2 linked regions of the Homo sapiens genome follow. The protein of the gene in region 1 purifies or fractionates together with the protein of each later gene. This does not show direct contact. Each region holds a gene or a part of one and is shown on either strand. Other genes may lie near its edges.

Region 1 (3,825 bases):
CATCTGCAGCTCCTAATGCCTGGTACCTTGGGTATGGAGTGAGGAGAGACAATGGACAGTTTTATATAAGAAATGGAAGTAATGATACTATCTTTCCTGGAATATTTGCAGGCCCCAGAGGAGATGATGAGCAAGGACTGTTGGCCTGTATTACACACAACAGGGTTGTAGTTACTATCCCAGCAAGGAAAGGGTGTATCTTTCTTCTTTCATGCAAATTATCTATGATGACCTAACAGTTTGATTATAGTGAGTGGACTAACCACAACAATAAAAAAGATGTCAAAAAAACACCAATAGCCACTGGTTTTTCCAAATCAACTATGTTTCTAGCATCTGAGATAAAGGATGGCTGTATCATAAGATGCACCATGATAACCTCCAGGGTGGAATTCTTTTTTACAAAGATGTTACCTTTAGCAAGAGATGCCTTTGAAAAGGAGAAAACAGTAGCACTGAAACAGTATTACTGGTTCTGTTTTCTGATTTATGCTTTTTTGAAAGACCTGATGTTTCCCCTATTGATATAATTTTACTAATTAAAACATGTTTTATTTGATGTCTTGAGTTTTGAAGAAACGTCGAAAATGAATGACTGTTGGCTGGGCACAGTGGCTCAGGCCTGTAATCCCAGCATTTTGGGAGGCCGAGGTGTGCAGATCACTTGAGGTCAGGAGTTCAAGACCAGCCTGGTCAACGTGGTGAAAACCAGTCTCTACTAAAAAATAAAAAAATTAGCTGGGCGTGGTAGTGCACGCCTGTAATCCCAGCTATTTGGGAGGCTGAGGCACGAGAATTGCATGAACCCAGGAGGCAGAGGTTGCAGTGAGTCGAAATTGTGCCACTGCATTCCAGGCTTGGTGACAGAGTGGGACTCCATCTCAAAAAAAAAAAAAAAAAAGAATAAAGAATGATTGTTTATTAGCTTTGCACACATAGCAGTACATTTAAAAGGAAAAAATTAAACGTAGTCCCTAATATTTTTATTAGTACAGTCTCAAAGGAGTAATTTTCATTGTGAAAATGAAAATATTCTAATATAATTTATGAGATAATGTATGTGAAATCATGTATGTATGCGTCTGTATGTTCACTGCATTTTAAATATACATAGACTCAAAGGAAATAATGTTCGGTTACTGAGTAGAAGACTGGTACACGTTTGAACTTGATTCTTCTGAAAAAATAATGAATCTTCATTAGATTGTCTTTAGCCTCCACTCTTAGGGCAGCTTTAACTTAAAAGCAGAATCTTTTTCTTTTCTTTTCTTTTTTCCTTTTTTGAGACAGTCTTGCTTTATCACCCAGGCTAGAGTGCAATGGCGCGGTCTCGGCTCACTGCTACCTCCGCCTCCCAGGTTCAAGCCATTCTCCTGCCTCAGCCTCCCGAGTAGCTGGGATTACAGGCATGTGCCACCATGCCAGGCTAATTTTTGTATTTTTAGTAGAGATGAGGTTTTGCCATTTTGGCAGAGGCTGGTCTCGAACTCCTGACCTCAAGTGATCTGCCTGCCTCAGCCTCCCAAAGTGCTGGGATTACAGGCGTGAGCCACCATGCCTGGCCAAAAGCAGAATCTTAAAAAAAATAAAAATAAAAGGTGGCCTGTGGTGGCGTGGTAATGCCCTAAAGTCAGGTGAGGTGTTCAATTGGAGATGGAGGGATGGGTTCCTACATTCAGGCAAGTCTGTTATAAAGCTGTATAAAACTACTTGAAATAGATACTATCAGATAATTGAGGACAAAAGGTCTGCCTTATTTCAGCTGGCAAAAATGGCTTTTTAGCAATTTCACCTAGTGTTTATTAAGCTTGAGAAGAAAAGCTAAGGATCTTCTGGATAAATCCTGAGATCATGGGATCAGTTCAGAAAACAAGTTCTCTTAAAGGGAGAAAGGAATAAAAAATATGAATGTAATAATATTTAAACTAACATCATTTAGGGAATGATATGCTGCATATATGTGATTCCATGTAATTGAAAATACATAAATACTAAAACATTGTATTCATTTTCGACAGACCCTCTTTCTAAAGCGTTTGTTGTGTTGTATTACACGTTAACACTCATATTTGTATGTAGCAAATATTTATTTGATAACTGTTACTTGCTGGACACTGAGATTAAACATAATTTAACCTTCTCCACTGAGGTCATTTTACATTTCTGTTATGCATAGTACTACTTTTCAGTTTTGTTGATTTCACTGGCTTGTCACTTGTCATGGTGATCAGTATATACCTATTGTAATTTCATCCTTTCCCTCTTCTTCTTTTCAGTTTGCTGGTTATTCTATGACTTGAGGGAATAGATAACCTAGCTATTAATTACCTTTTAAATCAGTTCTGGCTGAAGGAGAGCTTAATGGCTTGGCTTTGTAACCATACTTTCAGATGTTTGAGAATCTCTTTCATTTCCTTCCAGATTTGGAGCTATATTTTAGAGAGTTAAGGCTGTAGAGAAACTAGCAGCTGGATTGTTTCAGCGACTAAAAAGCTGATATCCGAGGTTCATTTTTAGCAAATAAGGGACGTAATTCATTCTAAAGAAACAAAACATTTGTACAGCTGCTGAGGACAATGTGTAGTAGAGAGGGTGAGGAATTTGGAGTCCAGTTTTGGCCTGCCACTTAATAGCTCTGAGACTTTGGATTAGTTCTGTGAACTCTCTTGGCCTCAGGTTCCAAACCTGTTAAATGAAGTATTAATGTACCTTGGGGAGTTACAGTTGTCAACATTAAATGAGAAGGTGTGCTCTCAATCATAATGTAAGTGTTAATCAATGTCAGTGTTTTCATTCTAAAGATAGAGTCCTAAAAGTTCTGTTTCAAGTTAGATTATGGCCACAGTTTCAAAAATAAATGAATAAACCATTACTGTTTTTGTTTTGTTTCGTATTGAGACGGAGTCTCGCTCTGTTGCCCAGGCTGGAGTGCAGTGGCGTGATCTCGGCTCACTACAAACTCTGCCTCCCAGGTACATACCATTCTCCTGCCTCAGCCTCCCTAGTAGCTGGGACTACAGGCGCCCACCACCATGCCCAGCTCATTTTTTGTATTTTTAGTAGAGATGGGGTTTCACCGTGTTAGCCAGTGATCTCCTAACCTCGTGATCCGCCTGCCACGGCCTCCCAAAGTGCTAGGATTACAGGCGTGAGCCAAGGTGCCCAGCCTGAATAAACCATTACTGTTTCTAAAAGAAGAAAGTGAGGTTTCCATTTCTAGGACCATTGGAGTGGGTAGTAGACCAGGAGTGAGGAGACTTGTGTTTTAATGCTGGTTTTGTTCTTTTCTGGCCTTGTGATTTTTGAGCAAACGACTTAATTGCTGTCACACTCTTCATCTGTAAAATGAGACTAATCCTTGTTTCACACACCTTTTTAAGATTGTTGCAAGGGTTAAATGCAATAATGAATGTGGTAGTGTTTTGAGAAGCTTCTATTAGTGCTAACCTAGCACAGAGCTTGCCTTAATATACAGAGGCACTGAGTGATTATTGAAAGAATGGCCTTAAAGATTAAATAGAAGGTCCTTCATGGTGGCTTCTCCTGTCTCTAGTTGGTTTTTGAGTTCTTGATTTACTTTTTATTGTATTTATCTACGGTTTTACTTATGTAAAATTCTCACAGGCCTGAATATAAGATTATGAAATTTTCTGGGTCAAGAGAGGGGGCTAAATGATTGAGTATATATTATAGTAAGTGTATTTCAACAATTTTATTTTTATTTCTTATCAAGAAGTATAGTAATGTATTTGTTCTTCTTTTCTTTTTTCTAACATGGTATCGTTATAACATTATAATATTTCTTAGTATCTCCCAAATTGTCCT
Region 2 (3,825 bases), on another chromosome or scaffold:
TAAAAGTAAATAATTATTATTAGAATGGTAACTAAGTCATTAAATTTTTTTGCAGAACTGAAACTTGTATGTTATTAGTTTATTTTCTTAGACCAGTGTAATAATTGACTGTAAATAGAAATATAAATGTCACTTTACAGTTAGATGTATCACAGTCGTTTCAGGAGAATTTTTCCTATATTGTTACCTTGATTCATTGTTTAAAATTGGTAGGATTTGTATAGATATAGGATAGTGTTTTATTTATACTTTATCATAAGCCATAATCATTTTAAGAATACTTTATTGGATAGATTTTAGTACTTTTTAAATTCTAAAGTTCTATTTTTCTTTTCACTTCCCCTTCCTTCCCCTTATAAGATCATTTCCATGTCTTTGTTGGTGATCTCAGCCCAGAAATTACAACTGAAGATATAAAAGCTGCTTTTGCACCATTTGGAAGAATATCGTAAGTAACAGAAGATAAATAAAATCCTTTTAATTAGAAACAATTATATGTAGACATAACTTGAAAATAATTCTGTTGTGAATTTTGTACATTAATTTTATAACTTGAATATAATGTATTACATTGTTTAGAGATCATTCAAGAAGTTAACAGCAAAAGATTGTTTTCCCATTGATGAATAAACCTTTGGTTTTCAATTATCTTAAAATCCTTTTTCAATTAGCATAGCTCTTAAGAGACAAATTTGCCATTGTACATGTTTTACTTTCTTATATAGGTATCAAGCTAGCTTGGTGACAATCTTTAGTAAAATTGTGCTGTAACTAAGGAATTTAGATCTGTTGGGTACTTCTATGATACCATGCATTTTGTGTTAATATATTTTAACAAAAAGAAACCTTAACAATTCAACTTAAAAAGCAGTTATTGAATATTATTTTCTAGATATTTACACCCTTTTAAAAAAACTGCTAACAATAATAGTGCCTTAATAATATTTTATGAAGCACTGCCTTGCTTGCACTTGTTATTAGTCATACATTTTAGGCCCTTATGAATAAATACCTTACTTGAGATAGCATTCATCATAGAAGAACTTTAAAATTTTGAAAAGCATGCCATATTAGAGTAAGAATAACAAGTTGTTTACAGTACTTTCTGTAGAGTAATTAGCTTAGAAAACTTCTTCAGGGTTTCTGCTTGCTCTGTTATTTTTCCACCTAGAAGAATAGTAAAAAGGAAGTGCTAGCTGTGGTTTGGTTTGAACAGACCAACAGCAGAGATGAGATGAGGAGACTGGAAAGTAAATGCCAGTAGTATTGGTGAATTTTAGGAGCTTTCGTTTGAAGAGTTATCGTTCCTTGATTAGGGGATGTGACCAAGGAATTACCAACTTTAAAGGTGGTCACAGAATTAGGGCTTATAAATGGACTTCTTTCAGATGACATTTTTCTTTGTGAGACCTGATCAGGAAAATAAGTACAGCTTTCATTTCTTGATTGTCCTTCTTAATAATATCTTAGAGTTTCAATAATAATTAGCTTGCTTTCGAATATCTGGACTTAGACAGTCTTAGCCTTTGGCCTCTCAAGGGCTCTAAATCTCTATGCACAATTTTGTGTTTTCATTTTGGTGTGGAAAATCTTTGTAAATTTTATCCTATTGTCAGAGTAGTCATAGAACCATAAAAGGATAAAGAAGCCTGATCTAGATCTTTGCTGCTGCTTCAGAGAATCTTTTCAGAGAGAAATAAATGAGTTGAATATTTTTCAAGACTAACATTTTCTGAAACTTTAAGAAGAAAAAATTTTCTAACATTGTGAACAGATTAAGTAGCTATTTTATTAAATGCTTTGATTTTAATTGAGGTAGTTTTTTTGAAAACACGGGAATTTTAGTTTGGAATTAGGCAAAGATTGTTTAACAGTTGGTGAGTTTAAGTTAAGTGACCTTCAGATTTTAGCAATTTCATGATTTACAAATCGTGGGTTATATTTTTTTCTCTTAAATATATTTCTGTGTCATATTTTTAGTCTGTAGATTTTCTTATGGTCCCATGATTATTGGTGTATACTTTTTTTTTCTTGGTAAGACCTTTAAGTTTTATGATTTTCAATTGAGATAATGTATAATGTTTGAGTTTTAGGCTATATAAGGAATTAGCTTTCCTGCATTTAAAGGAATCATTTGGCAGTCAGTAGCATATTTTCCTGATTTTTTGTTGTTGTTAAAGGAGATAAGTTGATAACTGTATGTTGAAGGGTTCTCATGATATTCTCTAAAAAGTGCAAATATCAGTGCTTGATTTATAGATGTGTAATAAACAGTGGTCTGTAAAAGCATGTAGTATAAAAAATATGGTATTTTCCCTTATATACAGCCTATAAACTCTTCCTATTCCTTGAGTTTAGGGTAGACTAACAAATTACAGCGTAGAAGAGAGTCAGCTACCAGATTAAATGCATGCGTACCATACAGATAATTTATTAAGTATTTTTGCATATTGAACATTGACTTACATTAATTTTCCCTTTTCACCACCACGTCTTTGTCATTTTGACCCTGAACACTTAATAAATCACTCAGATTGATCTAAAATATGCTTATGTATACTTTAATAGAAAATTACATTGCATGGCTTTCTGACTTGGGTTTTTGTTATAAAAGTGCCTGTTTTGTTCATGTGTCCTGAGAGAGCAAGCATTGTGACATACCTGACTAACTTAAAAGCAGATTGCCTGTGAAGCACAATTTGAGTCCAATTTTTTGAGGTATGGAGTTTTAGCTATCATGGCTGGGTTTTTACTCAATCTCAAATAATAGGGCTCTGGTTATTTTGCAGAGTGTCTCTGAAGAATGGACAGAATTGCCCTGGCTAACTACAAGCTACGGTTCACAGTGGATAAATGTTGGCGTGCTTTTTTACTTTCTGACTTTTTAAAATTTTGCTTTTATATCTTGTAGTTCCAATCAATTTTATATGAATGCTATTATAAAATTCAGTGTAAAATCTTTTCTTGTCTAGCTTAAAACTTGTGTGTGTCTAGTATTTTTCTTCAATGATTTAACATTTCTGAAAATGTCAAGTTCTCAAAATTTAGACAAAAAGGGGGGTATAAATTGATCTGAAAAAATTAAATAGTTTAATTAGTTTAGGGAATATACAACTTTTTCATTCTTTTGGTTTCCAGTTTTCTATTTTTTTTTAATGATTAGGTAGAATATAGTGTCAAATAAGTTATAAATTGCATGGTTAAAGAAAGCCATTCATCTAATGTCCTGTGAACTTTATAAGTGGTTAAGTAGTTCATGTGAGTAGCTGCTTTCACCATGCTTAATATTTAAAAGTTTAAAAAGTTTTTTGAAGAGAGAGGCAATTTCTGTACAATATAAATATACATATATACTTAAGTTATTGATTTGCATGTCTATAAAATTAAGCCTCATTTCCTAATACATGATAAATTTTGTAGAATAAAAGGTGAATTTGCATTAAAGGTTCACTTTAATGAAGGTGAAACATGAGAATGAGTTGTGTGTGAAATTCTTATTTGATATCCAGAGGATAGTTTGCAAACCTAAACTTCTGATTGTTTCTGATTTCAGAGATGCCCGAGTGGTAAAAGACATGGCAACAGGAAAGTCTAAGGGATATGGCTTTGTCTCCTTTTTCAACAAATGGGTGAGCTCAGTGAGAAGTGCATGGATAATGCTTAAAGAGTAAAGAATGGAAACACTCCGTTTTAATTACTAATCTTTTTTTCGTCTGCTGTTTATTTTACTGATGATTAAAATAAACCCTCACTAGAAGATTTCTTCTGTTTTGTCTGTTTAACATTTATTGGCACCTGAGGCATGCAGAGTACTGATAAGATGTT

The links.
Region 2: the proteins of OSTC (region 1) and TIA1 purify together in Homo sapiens (affinity purification with mass spectrometry; one large-scale study listed by BioGRID and IntAct). This does not show direct contact.

The regions. Positions count from the first base shown.
Region 1 is NC_000004.12:108,660,335-108,664,159, forward strand, and holds part of OSTC (oligosaccharyltransferase complex subunit OSTC), read left to right. Parts: intron 1-2,898; coding exon of another isoform or gene 2,899-2,972; intron 2,973-3,825. UniProt on the Homo sapiens protein: Subunit of STT3A-containing oligosaccharyl transferase (OST-A) complex that catalyzes the initial transfer of a defined glycan (Glc(3)Man(9)GlcNAc(2) in eukaryotes) from the lipid carrier dolichol-pyrophosphate to an asparagine residue within an Asn-X-Ser/Thr consensus motif in nascent polypeptide chains, the first step in protein N-glycosylation.
Region 2 is NC_000002.12:70,224,358-70,228,182, reverse strand, and holds part of TIA1 (cytotoxic granule associated RNA binding protein TIA1), read left to right. Parts: exon of another isoform or gene 1-360; coding exon 361-448; exon of another isoform or gene 449-2,789; coding exon of another isoform or gene 2,790-2,826; exon of another isoform or gene 2,827-3,455; coding exon of another isoform or gene 3,456-3,553; coding exon 3,554-3,629; coding exon of another isoform or gene 3,630-3,671; exon of another isoform or gene 3,672-3,759; intron 3,760-3,825. UniProt on the Homo sapiens protein: RNA-binding protein involved in the regulation of alternative pre-RNA splicing and mRNA translation by binding to uridine-rich (U-rich) RNA sequences.